Regions from separate parts of the Homo sapiens genome. Here region 1 is linked to region 2. The links come from fine-mapping of genetic effects on gene expression. Tissue or cell type: whole blood. Region 2 holds a variant in brackets; the other region holds the start of a gene. All regions are shown on one strand. Distances are between the middles of the regions.

Region 1 (2,752 bases), 85 kb before region 2:
AACAAAACAAAACAAAACTTTCAACAAGCAGATGTAGAAAATTTAAATTATATTTGGCCTACAAGTAAAGGTTACTCCATGCTTCCCTACCTCAAATGTCCTCTCCCATCTCTCTGGTACTGAGAAAATCTGTGTCGCCTGTTATAAGGCAGTCTACACAAGACCAACACGCTAACCCACTGCCACCTCAGGGTTATCAAACATTTACACAGTGGCCCAGACAAAAATATCCCACGGAAACAAAACAAAAACAAAAACCCAGAGAGAAAAACCACCCTTTAAAGATTTGGCCTTGGGTTTTAAATTTGCCCATCCCTTTTTAACACTATGTATTGACAATCTTTCCTTCAATGATGCCTTGTTCTAATTTCTGCTTTTCACATCCATTAATGGCACATGATAGGCCAGGGGTTGCTGCCATAGCGTAAACGGAAAAGGTGCCCGTAATTCGGGTGTGTAATGTACTGGGCCATATTCTGGTCCCCAGTTTTCATGGGTTTCCCAAAGGCTACCCACTGGCTTATGAGTATTTCTAGCCCTTAGTGGAGTAAAAATATTAACACCTAACACTTGATTCCCACCTTTAAGATACAATTTAAAGAAATGCTAAAAAGGCAAACGGCTCAAAATGCCTCCACCAGGCACCTCCAGGCCCATACCCTGCGGGTCCCTATGGCCCACTCTGGGGTGTCCTTCCGGGATGGGACACTCCCCGGCCCACGGCCCTGCCGGCCTCCACGGGGCACAACTCAACCCGCGAGTCCACGCGGGACACTCCCCGGTCTACAGCCCCACCGGCCTCCTCCACGCGGCACCCCTCAACCCGGGAGTCCACGCGGGCCACTCCCCGGCCCACCGCCCCGCCTGCCCCCACGCGGCAGGCTCCCTACAGACGGACGCTCCTCTAACCCGGACCCGCCTAGGAGCTCCAGCCGCCTCACGATGGCCTTCAGAGGCCGGGCGGGACCATCTCTGGTGGACCGCGGCCTCAGCGCCCCCCCCGCCTGGGCCTCTCGCCTCGGGCCTCGGGCTTCGCCGCCCACCCGGAGAGGCCCACCCCTGCCCCACGCGCCCAGGCCGCTTCACGTCCTCACCCTCGGCCTCTCGCTCGCCCGCCGCGTCCTCACCGGCCTCGCCCGGCCTCCGCAGTCGCAAGCAGCAGCCGCCAGACTCGCGTCGGCGTCGCCTGCTCCCAACTGCCCGCCGGCAGCCCCCGCGCAGCGCGCCCCGCCCTGACCCCGCCCCCGCGACGCGGACGCGCAGTCGATTGGCCTGCGGGGCGCCAGGGCGGAGCCTTCCCGTCCCGCGGCCTGAAAGCGCAAGATCGAGTTCTGATTGGTGAACGGACGGAGAAGGGGCGGGAGCAGGCAGGCAGCTGCGTAGGATATAAATCTGTGCAGCGCTCGGCTCGTTGGGCGGGGCGTCGGCTTGCTGAGCGAGGCAATGTCCTAGGCGAAGCCAAGGCTCGCTGGGCGGGGCTAGATCTTGGGCGGGGAGTCGGCTCGTTGGGTGGGGCTAGGTCCTGGGCGGGGAGTCGGCTCGCTGGGCGGGGCTAGGTCCTGGGCGGGGAGTCGGCTCGCTGGGCGGGGCTAGGTCCTGGGCGGGGAGTCGGCTCGCTGGGCGGGGCTAGGTCCTGGGCGGGGAGTCGGCTCGCTGGGCGGGGCTAGGTCCTGGGCGGGGAGTCGGCTCGCTGGGCGGGGCTAGGTCCTGGGCGGGGAGTCGGCTCGCTGGGCGGGGCTAGGTCCTGGGCGGGGAGTCGGCTCGCTGGGCGGGGCTAGGTCCTGGGCGGGGAGTCGGCTCGCTGGGCGGGGCTAGGTCCTGGGCGGGGAGTCGGCTCGCTGGGCGGGGCTAGGTCCTGGGCGGGGAGTCGGCTCGCTGGGCGGGGCTAGGTCTTGGGCGAGGTCTAGGCTCGCTGGGCGCGGATAGGTGCTGGGCGAGGCCTAGGCTTGCTGGGCGCGGATAGGTGCTGGGCGAGGCCTAGGCTTGCTGGGCGCGGATAGGTGCTGGGCGAGGCCTGGCTCGCTGGGCGGGGATAGGTCTTGGCCCGGGCCTTGCCGGCTGTCCTTGCACCCTTTGGCTCAGTCCCTGGCTGCCAGCCTCCTCCTTCCTCCAACGCATTGCATCCCTCGTGGGACTACAGGGACCGAAGGGGATCATCGAAGGATCGCGCGAGGCTGTGCTAAGGCTGAGACAGGCTGCTCCGTGGTGGCGGCCAGGACGGCCTTCCTCTGGCCTAGGGACCCCCACCCGAGAATGGAAGACTGACTTGCTGTGGCACACTTCCCTTCTCTTGAGAAGTTCATTGAACTCCTATGTGTTCTTCAAGACCCTACCCATCGTGCTCTCCTAGCCCGGCCCTGTCACCCACTGTCACCATGTGGCTGTTGAGGGAATAATTAACTTCAGGAAACACCCGGGCACTTAAGAGACTCCTCCTATGGTGCTGTGGATTCCAGAGTGAAACCTGACCCTTCGTTTCCCAGAAGCCCAGACAGGAGAAATGCTGGCTCAGGGGAACCTCCATTTCTCCTGAGACAACTATGGGGTCTGAGACCCAGGCACACCAAGACTGGGCTCAGCTGTGCGGGATGCTCCCCTCATGTGCCACCCACCTCTGGGGCTTTTCCTTTAACCAACCCCCAATGACACCACCAGGCCCAGAGTGGTGCACACACCCCAGAACAGAGGATCCCTGCCTGCAGACGGGCAGGGCCGGGTGGGGATAGTGCAGGTGAGAGCCTGGCCAGAGGGT
Region 2 (2,752 bases):
CCGCGGGTGTCCTGCTTACCGCGCGTGGCGGTTCCGGGCCAGACCTGGGGCCGGCTCCGAGTCTCTTCTGCGCGTGGCCGTGGCGCGGAGGGGCGCGCACAAACTTTCTCAAGTCCGGTGGCGCCGCTGGGCCGCTCTTGGCTGCAAGCTGGGCTCCCCCGCCTCCTCCCGGGGCTTCGGTGGGGCACCCCTGGTGCCGTGGCCGCACGGCGCGGAGGGGCGGCCGACCTGAGCCCAGGTCGCTGACGTTGGCGGGGCCGGCCCTCCCCTCCCCCGCTCCGGCGGGGGCGCCGTGTGCGGCCAGGGTGGGGGTCCCTGGGAGGCCAGCGGGGTCCTTCCCCCCAGGTGGCGGCGGGGCGGGGGTCTGGGCGCAGACCGGGCGGCGGGGCCCCCGCAGCACCTCCACCTGCCGCGCGGGGCCCGCGTCAGTCTACGTGTTCGGGGGTGGGGAAAGCTGCTCTTCTTGGGCCTGGAGTGCAACTTGGACGTGCCCCAGGGTCGTGGATGAAAAATACATTACGGAAAAGTACCGAATTTGGATGAAAGGCGGGGAGGCCGAGGGGTTGCTGTCCCTTTAAGCCTGTCCCCGCCCGCGGGCCCTCGTGGCCTGTGGGAGGGCCGTGCTGAGGTGGCATCTGCGAAAGTTCCTCCATGCAGGATGGGTGCCGACTTCCAGAACTTGGTGAGAAGTGCGGAGCGGAGCCTGCCTTCTGCTCGCCAGTCGCCTGTGGTCTCTCCTAGATTTCGATCTTGTGATCTCTGAGTGGATCAGGATTTTATTTTCCCATTCTGAACTTTGGTTTGTGGTCTTGAGTAATTTTAGTTTTGGAAGAGGAGAAGTCTGGGTTTCAGCCGGAGGCTTTTTTGGTGCCCTCCATACCCGGTCCTGTCTGGTGCTTTAAAGCACTTGCGGGTCTCATTAACTGAGGCTGAAATGAAATTCTTCCTGGAGTATTACTGATAATTCTCTTCGAAGACTGTTGCCCCTTGAATATGTAGTTGGCAAAACTTATCACAAGGGAATCAACTTAATTACTTCCTCGTTTAAAAGCAAAAAAGTAGAACCCCTCATGTGAAGCCTTTTTTGTTGCTGTCAGAAACCTGTTAGACTTGTGCTAAACTTGTAAGCACCAGGTTTCCCACGCAACACACAGCTCTGTCAGGACTCCACGTTTTGCTCTACACGTATTAGGGCGGAAAGGGGTCTTGGTTCCTGCCCTCCTTCCTTTAGTTCTAGTTCTGTTTGCTGAAAGTTAAATTCTGAGATGTGACCTTTTTTGCTTTGGATGTTTGCACTCTGGGAAACAAAATTAAAAGTCCAGGTTCAGTATAGTTTGAGGTTTACATTAGGTGGACCTGGACACTGATTGATCCGAGCTTCCTATGGGAAAAGTAGTTGGGAGAGCCAGAATCACGAAGGGACTGGGGCCATATGGGAGGGACTGAAGGAGACAGGAGATAGGGCTCACCTACCAGAAGGAGCCTTGGAGGAGAGCGGACTTGTTCTCCATGGCCAGAAAGGGGAAAGAAGTTGTAGATTTTGTCATAACTTGAGGTGGAGCGTTTACAGCCATGCAGGGGTGGACCCGGGCCCTGAGAAGGCCA[T/C]GAATTTCCTGTCCCTGGTGGTATTAAGAAATGGGATTAGATTAATATCTGAGGTTCCTTTCAATCCTGATTTGGACAGTACTGTTAGATCCAGTGAGAATCTGAGATACCCGATGTTAGCCTCTGTTCTTGGGTATCTAGGCCTGCCCAAGGTATCCTGGGAACTTCAGATAGCAAGTGGAGTTGCCTGGCGCTGTCCTGGGGTTGCTGAAAGATCCACATGGAACAGGATTAAACCCTCGTGGGTGTTGTCTGTGAAGGCAGAGCCAGGAGCAGGGCGTAGCAGTGCGGGGTGGACATGGGGCTGTAGGGTCAGCTTCTTAGGTGCTGCTTTGTTGAACCAGAGGCAGGTGGACCCCTGGGCTGTGCCTCACTGGATTGGGAGCACAGAAGGAGAATGAGACTGACTTTTAAGAAAATCTCACCCAGAATTTCAGGTGGGGACAGGGTCTGCATTTACATGTGGGTCATCAAATGCTTGCTTAAAACGCAGTCTTCGAAAACAGGTTTTTGAGTTGTTTAGAAGAAAAACAAAATGTTGTTTGATGATACCAGAACCCTAGATGTTAAATGTGTCTCTAGTTGTGAACCATTCGTTACACGCTCTGACAAACTGCCACTTGGAATCTGGAGGCTAGGGACCCAGTATAGCCTGTCAAACCAGTCTGGAGTTTTCTGGAGGTCTGCCTTCTGCCTTACCTGGCTGCCTGAGGGTCTGTGCACGCCTGAGGAACATGAGAGGCTCTGCTCCAGGGTCTCCCTCAGACACAGGAGTAGGTTCCCTTATGTTGAGACTCCTTTCAGTATAGGGTCCGGCTGGACTTGGCTTCTGAAGGGTGTGTGAGTGGTCTCAGAAGAGACTGACACTGGGTGCACAGTGGGGATTGGCTCATCACAGCTCCGTGCTGGAGAGTCGGTGCGGGCTGACATGGACGGAACTGCATTTTGCAGACTTCTAGTGTGGCTGTCACTGGGCACTAGAGACTTGCCCAGAACCTAGCTTGATAAGGGGGTGGGTGTCTGGGTTTAAGAAGTGACATTGGAGCCCGGGACAACCTTGAGTGAGAGACCATGCCAGGTGAGAGTCAGCAAGCAAGCGTGGGAGGGCGGAGGGTGGATGCGGGAGACCAGAGGCAAGTGTCACTGG

The links. PIP is the estimated chance that this variant, and not a neighbour inherited with it, causes the effect.
Region 1: FARP2 starts here. The variant in region 2 is fine-mapped to the expression of FARP2 in whole blood (INTERVAL, PIP above 0.99).

What each region holds. Positions count from the first base shown.
Region 1 is chr2:241,354,731-241,357,482 of GRCh38, reverse strand. It overlaps FARP2 (FERM, ARH/RhoGEF and pleckstrin domain protein 2), which reads right to left and starts at 1,198. Exons shown (of 27, transcript NM_014808.4): 1 at 1,095-1,198. RefSeq lists a silencer at 861-1,410.
Region 2 is chr2:241,269,847-241,272,598 of GRCh38, reverse strand. The region is part of intron 1 of HDLBP (high density lipoprotein binding protein); the gene reads left to right. HDLBP-AS1 (HDLBP antisense RNA 1) reads right to left here and starts at 435. Exons shown (of 2, transcript NR_168372.1): 1 at 1-435. RefSeq lists a silencer at 92-401 and an enhancer at 542-621. The variant T/C (reference allele first, on the strand shown) is at 1,606.